Linked DNA regions of Homo sapiens. The protein of the gene in region 2 interacts with the protein of the main gene of each other region in a pairwise test. Each region holds a gene or a part of one and is shown on either strand. Other genes may lie near its edges.

Evidence for each region.
Region 1: the proteins of ABCD3 (region 2) and TUFT1 interact in a two-hybrid assay, tested with the Homo sapiens proteins (one large-scale study listed by BioGRID and IntAct).

The regions. Positions count from the first base shown.
Region 1 is NC_000001.11:151,538,779-151,543,370, reverse strand, and holds the start of TUFT1 (tuftelin), read right to left. Parts: upstream 3,063-4,592; 5' UTR 3,005-3,062; coding exon 2,945-3,004; exon of another isoform or gene 2,465-2,944; coding exon of another isoform or gene 2,462-2,464; intron 1-2,461. UniProt on the Homo sapiens protein: Involved in the structural organization of the epidermis. Involved in the mineralization and structural organization of enamel.
Region 2 is NC_000001.11:94,424,687-94,428,499, reverse strand, and holds part of ABCD3 (ATP-binding cassette sub-family D member 3), read right to left. Parts: intron 399-3,813; exon of another isoform or gene 1-398. UniProt on the Homo sapiens protein: Broad substrate specificity ATP-dependent transporter of the ATP-binding cassette (ABC) family that catalyzes the transport of long-chain fatty acids (LCFA)-CoA, dicarboxylic acids-CoA, long-branched-chain fatty acids-CoA and bile acids from the cytosol to the peroxisome lumen for beta-oxydation.

The DNA.
Region 1 (4,592 bases), about 57 Mb from region 2:
CATATATAATACACACACACACACACACACACACACACACACATATATATATAACTGAAATAAAAGTTCTACCAAAAATGTCTATCCTCACTAACACTCTAAGAGTGTTAATTCTATTTCTTTTTTAATACTGGTCTGACCTACTAAGTTGATCTCAGACCCACTACTGGTTATGGTCTGCAGTTCTGAAAAACACTGGCTCCTTGTACCTGCTGCATCTGCCTCCAACAATAAAAACATCCCAGAGAGTGTATTGGCCCTATGTCCATGTCCACATGTGATACGCTAAGGCACACTGCCTGGCTAGTGGGGAAACACCAACAGAGTCCCAGGGCCCTCACTCCCAGTAGGATCTCTAATCAGTTCAACTGTCTACATTCTGACTCCGGAAGAAACATCTGTTCATTTATTTATTGACTCACTTTGCACATGAATTGAGCACCCATTCAGTGGTGTGAATATATGACAGATTCCTGGGGGTTGTCCAGAGCCATAAATTCTGTCTGCAAGTTGGCTCAGAGAAGAGGAATCCAGGACAAGGCCTGTGTCCCGACTGTTCACCATCTCCTCCCCTCCCTTAAGGGCCCAGGAATGTCTCCAAGATCAGATCTGGGCAATGATTACTTCATTCCCAGCTCTGGAGTAAAATAAGTCTCAAGTTCAGCCTAGAAAAAAGGAATAAAAGGGAATTTCTGTCTCTCCCTTGCTCTAGAGGTCTCTGGTTAGCTTCAAACTAACCTATGATGGAGACCATCTGAATTCCTTGTCCATTATTTTCTCTTAGTAATTTTTTCTGCCCCACCAGACAAAGAGCAAAAACATCAAGAAAGAGTAAAAGGGGCCAGATGTAGTGGCTCATGCCTGTAATCCCAAGCCTTTGGGAGGCCAAGGTGGGCAGACTGCTTGAGCCCAGGAGTTCGAGACTAGCCTGGGCAACATGGTGAAATCCCATCTCTACCAACAGAAAAAAAAAAAAAAAATTTTAGTCAGGTGTGGTGGCATGTGCCTACAGTCTCAGCTACTTGGGGAGACTGAGGTAGGAGGATCTACTGAAACCAGGAGGTGGAGGTTGCAGTGAGCTGAGATCATGCCATTGCACTCCAGCCTGGGCAACAGAGCAAGGCCCTGTCTCAAAAAAAGAGAAAAGAAAAGAGAAAAGAAAAGAAAGGAAGAAAGAAAAAAAATAGTAGAGGTTAATGATTCATTAACACTGCCAGTGCCAACTTGGTCTTAGACTTCTTTCCGGATCTCTTTTCTATATAGCAAGCAAGCAAAAAGCAGCCCAAACATCCCTCTCCTTTATTTATCTCATACCCTTTTCCCTCAACTATTCCAAAAGAGAGAGCAAGAGCATGGAAGAGAAGCTATAGGTGGTGTGCATCTGAAGTCCCAGCTACTCAGGAGGCTGAGGCAGAAGGATTGAGGCCAGGAGTTCAAGGCTGTGGTGTGCTATGATTGCACCCGTGAAGAGCCACTGTACTGCAGCTCCGGCAACATAGCAAGACACTCGTCGCTTAAAAACAAAGAGCAGGGAGTAGGACTTGTGGCTGACACATAATGGATAGATTTCTTCCATCTCTTCAGAGTCTCATAGCTGGGGATGTGGCAGGCTACAGAAGAATGGGGTTTGGGCAACTGGGGTTGGCCAATAGCAACATCTGTATTTTAATGTGGCAAAAACACTCATAGCCCAGGCAGAAATGGAGAGGGGACTGGGAAAAGAACTAAATGACCATCTGTATTCTAAACCTGAAATGAGTTTGAAGAAGAGCCATAATCTAGCTGCAGTTGGGTTAGCTCTACCTCAAGAGCAGGATGAGGCAGGCAGAGAGTAAGGGAGTCAGATGTGGGAGGGGGGATGATACACAAGTTCCCCATCACCTTAGTTTTCATTTCACTCCCACCCACAATAGCTTGGAAATTGATGAAATAGTACACACCTAATCTGGGTTAAGTTCCCCAAAAGAGCCTAGAAACACTCAGCCACAAATTACCCTCCTCAGCCTCTGGAGAGGAAAAACCATATGGTCAGCTAGGGTGGGGAGAACTGGGACTGGGAGCCAGAGAAAGAGGAGAGAGGGGTAGACCAGCCTGCACTGGAGAACGCCCCCTTTCTCCGCAACCCTCTCCCCGTCCAGAAGCCTTCGCTTGGGTCACTTCCCTCCCCTTCTCGGCCCGGGTTCTGCATCCCCTTCCTCCACTATCCCAGGGCCTGGCGGCTGGAGACGGAAGCAAAACTAACACACCGTCCCAGGAAGCTATCGGCAGGCAGATAGAGGGAGGAAAACAAGAGAACTACAAGGGGGAAGAAGGAGAAATCCAAGACAAGAGGTGACCCCCGGGCGGAAAGCCCTATCCCTTAGCGAAAGGTAGAGTCCCTAGCCAATCTCGGAATAGTTTGAGTCCTACCGTCCCCTACTTGCCCCCCGCCCTCCAGTCCAAGCCCTGTAATTTACTCTACCATTTTTCTTGTTACTGATCATCCAAAGCACCATGATGAAATTCTTTGGAGGGCCTCGGAGGTCACCAGGACCCTCGACCCACGGGAAAGCCTAAGCCTCCTCGGCAGGACACAACGTCCAAAGGCGCTCAGGGACCCAGTCGCTTGAGCTCATTCTCTTATGACCCAATGTGGCTGCCCAAAAGACGCCTGAGACCCGCGGCCCAAGCACGGGCTCGCCGGCGCCGAGTCCCAGGCAGGAGCCGCAGTGTCCTACCAAAGGGCAGGGACGCCCCGAACCCTCCAGCCTCAAAGGAGTCTTCACCCCGCGACTCCCACTGCCCGTCGCAGGCAAAAGAATAAAAAGAGAGAAGCGCCGCGCAGGGCTGACCGCGCGAGCCGGGCACCAGGTGATGTCAGCCAACACGGCGCGGGGCACGGAAGGGGCGGACTTAGAAACCGGGAATACAAAACGGAGAAGACAGCGAGAGCGCTTTTTCTTACCGCCGCCTGGTCCTCTGGGTGCACGTCCACCAGGGTACACCAGTTCCGCGTCCCGTTCATCTTCCCTCGGGGTCGCAGCACACACGCCACTTGTCCACCCCGCTGTCTGGCTCCAACTGGGCGGGCGCGCGCGGAACCGCCCCCTTGTATAGGCCCATCAGGGGCGGGGCTGAAGATAGGCCGCGCCCCCAGTTCGCGGTTTCGCAGAGAACTAACGATAGGCGAGGAGGTGAGGTGGGCGGAGCCAATGGGTCTGGGACATGCCCCATCGGTGCTCGCATAGATTTACACAAAGGTGGGGCTTGGGAGCGACATGGGGCTGCTTTAACTGAACAGCTTTATCTGGAGTATGTGGTTGCACATTCTTCATTAATCTTGTCGCTTTCCATCTTTCCAAGATCAGTGTTGGTCAGAGGGAATCACCCTGCCTGCTCCTAGTGGATGAGGAGTTGGAACCTGCAAAAGCTTCCTTCCATACATGCTCCTCTCCCTATACGTAAGCCACCTGTAGGCTTTGTGGAGCTGAGTAAACCTTTCCTCCACCGCAGAAAGGCAGGCACCAAGGTCCAGCTCACTCAGACTGGCCTAAGCCAGTCTGGCAGGTGCACTTCCTTGGCAAGAGGCCCAGGAGGCCCAGTCAGCTTAGGCTCTGGGTGGGGCTTGTTTTGCAGAAGCTCTTTTACTGACGCTGCCCTTATATAGTTGGGAGAGGCGGGACACATTGCCTTAAAAGGAATTTGTGTTCGTGAGAAAGGATGAGCCTTGACTTTTCCAGTTGCATTTTCTCCCCAAGCCTAGGCTGGGATCTTGAGGGCCTAGAAGAGAGGGTTGGCCAAGCAGGACCCTGGAGCTTCGTCCCCGCCCAGCTGCTCTTGGCAGATGGCTTCTTCACTTGGCTGTGGTCCACAGAGACAGCAGACAGAATACTTTAGGAGGAGGTCTGACCCACTCCTGAAGGGATAGTACTCCTATACCTGGCAATAGGCTCTAGTGAAGGGCCAGCTCCCTCTTCAAGGCAACACTAGGGCAGGAACAGCAGAAATGTCCCTACCTCCCAGTTAGGGACTGGGTCCTATGTCAGTTAGGAATGAATGAGGATTTTTCTACCTGGGAAGTGAATGCTGGGGTTATCACTATGACCCAAGGGAATAAAACCCAGTTCTGGTCTGTTCTACTCTAACCCTCAAAAAGGCATTTACTGCTGGCCAGGCGCAGTGGCTTATGCCTGTAATCCCACCACTTTGGGAGGCCGAGGTGGGCGGATCACAAGGTCAGGAGTTTGAGACCAGCCTGACCAACACAGTGAAACGCCATCTCTACTAAAAATACAAAAATTAGCTGGGTGTGGAGGCACGCGCCTGTAATCCCAGCTACTCAGGAGGCTGAGGCAGGAGAATCGCTTGAACCCGGGAGGCAGAGGTTGCAGTGAGCTGAGATCATGCCATTACACTCCAGCCTGGGTGACAGAGTGAGACTCCGTCTCAAAAAAAAAAAAAAAAAAAAGGCATTTACTGTCCTTGTTCTTCCCAGAAGGTTGTTCAGGAGAGAAGAGAATGGGGCTGCTATAAACATCTCCAGGTTTCGTAGGTCCCATCTGCTCTGTTCTAAAGGGCCTCTGAAAAGTCAGGTGAAGAAAACTCCAGCTTCG
Region 2 (3,813 bases):
TTAAGAAGCTGTATAAATATTTTTAAAATAGTGACATGCAATGATACATTATAAACATAACATGTTGACTAAATTATTATTTACCTAGAGCAGTTGCCTCATTCTACACAGTGCTTTTTAATGCCAATAAATGTATTAATAAAATATTAAAGTCCAAATAATTTAAGCATAGAGTAAATCATATAATCCACTTTTATGTCAATTATTATAGTACCATTATAGTGGTGAGACGGCTACATCTATTTACAGATATCAAACTAGCTGATTATGCTTTGATGAGCTTTATTTTCAATTTTATACTTTATTAACTTAACTGCATTCACTCGGGCCTGCTAATCTAGCAAACTGATAAGAAAGGTGTGTTTAAAAAAACACTTTTCCATTTCTCAATCTTGTGGCAAAAAAATAAAAAATAAAAAAAAAAACAAAACACCTTTTAGCATACTCCTATTTTACCTAAGAAGGCTTCAAACCATCTTAATATTTATAATAGTTCCACTGTATTACATAAATAGCAGTTATCCAAAGAATTTTATCCTTAACTTTATAGAAGGCTATATTCTTGACAGAGATGCCTAAAACAAAAGTGACTTACTCTTAAAAAGAATGTTATGATGAAAGCCATGTTTTTAAGCAAGGGCCTGATGCCTAATTTTATGTAGAAATAATATAAATGCCATTTTAAACAACAGTTACATAAAAATCTTTCCAAAAGAACTAATAGGGTCGAGCACAGTGGCTCATGCCTGTAATCCTGATACTTTTGGGAGAACAAGGCAGGCGATCGCTTGGAGACCAGAAATTCGAGACTAGCCTGGTCAACATAGTGAAATACCATTTCCCGTAAAATTTTACTTAATTTAGCAGATAAAATTCCAAAGAAAATGTAGGAAGATCCTATCTTTCTCCTTCATAATTCAAGTTCATATTACATTGAAACAGATTAGAAGGTGATATTCATCAGGTCATGGATGAGTGTGATGTTGATCCTAGGAAAAAAGTTACAACTTACTTATCTAAATGGGCAGTATGGCATGGGTACTTAGAAGGAAGTGGTAACTTTTAGGAGAAAATATGAATTCACCAAAAAACTATGTCAGACTAAGGTCATTCTTTTCTTTGAAAGGGACCACGAAATTTTTGTAAATTTTGTTCACTATGCTACAAAGCATTTGATGATAAACAAAATCAGGGTTTCTGCCCTTTCCATGTAAGAGACCAAGGCTAATACAGTTCTAGGGTCTACCTTCACACCTCTGTGACAGGAAAGAAAGACCCTTCCCCACACCAGCTCCAGCAGAAACATCCCAAAAGAGGACTCTGGCCCAGTATGCATCAGGTTATGGATACTGTCAGAATGCCAGGTCTACTACCAGAAGGAAATGTGTGAAAAGATGCTGGTAAGTTAAAAATGAGAGCCAATACAATAACCAAAGGGTGTCAATTAATAGAAAGATTATAGTGGTGTAAACATACTGTTCTATACTCAGTCCTGTCCAATCAGTTTTTTAAGTTTGTTAGGAAAACATACAGAAGGAATAGTAATTAATTGTGCAGATCAAAAAGTTTCAGAGGGAAGAAGTAATGTGCCCAACCAAAAATAAGTATAAAGACCTGCACCCAGGTTTAAAAAAAAAAAAAAAAAAAAAAATTCAGGCTGGGCGCGGTAGCTCTCACCTGTAATCCCAGCACTTTGGGAGGCCGAGGTAGGCAGATCACCTGAGGTCAGGAGTTCAAGACCAGCCTGGCCAACATGGCGAAACCCCATTTCTCCTAAAAATACAAAAAAATTAGCTGGGTGTGGTGGCGGGTGCCTGTAATCCCAGCTACTCGGGAGGGTGAGGCAAGATAATCACTTGAACCCGGGAGTCGGAGGTTGCGGTAAGCCAAAATTGCACCACTGCACTCCAGCCTGGGTGACAGAGCAGGACTCCATCTCAAAAAAAAAAAAATCAAACACATCAAGGTGAGGAGGGGGAAAGAAGGGAAAACCATTGTGAAAGCTAAATACAAGTGAAAAATATTTGAGAGTCATAAAAATGAATGTAACTTCATGCTATTTTAATGAAAGCTTAACATCTTAGGATCTTTAATGAAAGCTTAGGACAAGGTAGGTCACAGTTCTCTGCTAGTGTGCCAGTGAGAAGACACTTTGAATGCCGAATTCCATTTAGCAATGCCTCTTTAAAAGGTGGAGAAATAAAGACTGTCATATTCAGGAAGCAGCAACTGAAAAAATACAGAAACCTAAAACCATGTCACATAAAACTAACTTAAGATACTTTCCAACTCTGAAAGTAAATGATTCTATCAATTGAAAAAGGCTTCCTTTGGGAGATTTTCATGGGTGTATCTGAGGAAATTAGGAAGGCTCGGGAGTTTTTAAGAAGCTAACAAAGGTATGTTTTGTTGTCCTTTTAGTTTTCTTTTAGCAAGCATAGAAATGAGAGCTACCTTTTATTTACTGAGCACTGGGTTAAAACGTTTTCTCCATTAATCCTCACTTAACTGCTGAGTGAGTGAGTAAATACTACTATCCCTGTTCTACTGAGGTTCAAAGAGGTTAAGTAAATTGACCAAGGTCACAGATCTGACAAACGGCCAAAGGAAAAATTGAACCTACATCTGACTCTAAAGACTATTCTTTAACACTATGCCAAACTACCTCCATAATAAAGATCAAGTAGCTGCACAAAAAAATGTTCATTTTTGCAAATTATAAAATACGTGCAAATTAAAATAATCTTTCAAGACTATTTTGCATCCGTAAAGTAGAAAAAAATTTAAATATCCCCTAATGATGAGTAGGTAATTAAGTCAGCATTCATTCATAGTACTGCAAATTGGCACAACTCATGAAAAGTAATACATCAACCTGTGTAGTTTAAGAATGCCCACAGTTTCCACAAACACTAAGGAAATTCATAAGCCTCCATTCATTAATCCTACTTCTGGCAATTTATTCCAAGGAAGTTATTCAGCAGAGATGAAAATGTTCACTTGCAAAAATACACCAGTATAATCCATAAAAATTCCAGAGACAGTCTAGATCCTCAATAGCTAACAGGAAAATAAACTAAGATATTGTCACACAGAGGAATATTTACGTATTTCTTTAAAAGTATAGTTATGAAGGTCATGTACAGGGAAATATAGGAAAGAGGTATGCTTTAAATGAAAATAACAAAACATGTACGTTATAACTGTAAAAATGCACATAAATACAGAATAAAAGGAAACAAAAATAAAACAATATTTGTATTATGGTTATAACATTATGGATGATTTTTAATTTTCTTAAATTGTCTTTAATGTTTACACTCTATTAAACTGTCAAAAGCAGGTGATGATAGCATTTTTTTAAGTTTCTGAGACTTGCTTTACCTGTACATATAGGGGGTATAAGTGGTCCAGCTCCTAAAGAGCTCATAAATATACTAAAGACAACATTTACATTTGTAGCAAAAAGAATGTGTTATTTAAAACAATAGTAACCACAGCCCCCAAAAAATGAGAATCTCATTTGTTGTTGTAGAGTCAAACAAATATGAGTGTCTACTATATATTCCAGCCACAGTTCTAGCCACTGGGGCTATAACTGTGAATAAAATAGACAAAAATTCTTGCCTTTGTGGAACTTAAATGCTAGCAGTATGTATATACTGCAAACATATACAACAGACAAGATAAATATGTAAAATATATAGCATATTTTATAGTGATAAGTGCTAAGGAGAAAAGTAAAGTCTGGAAGGTAGACAGGATGCTATTTTGAGTGGCAGGGGCCAGGCACAGTGGCTCTTGCCTGTAATC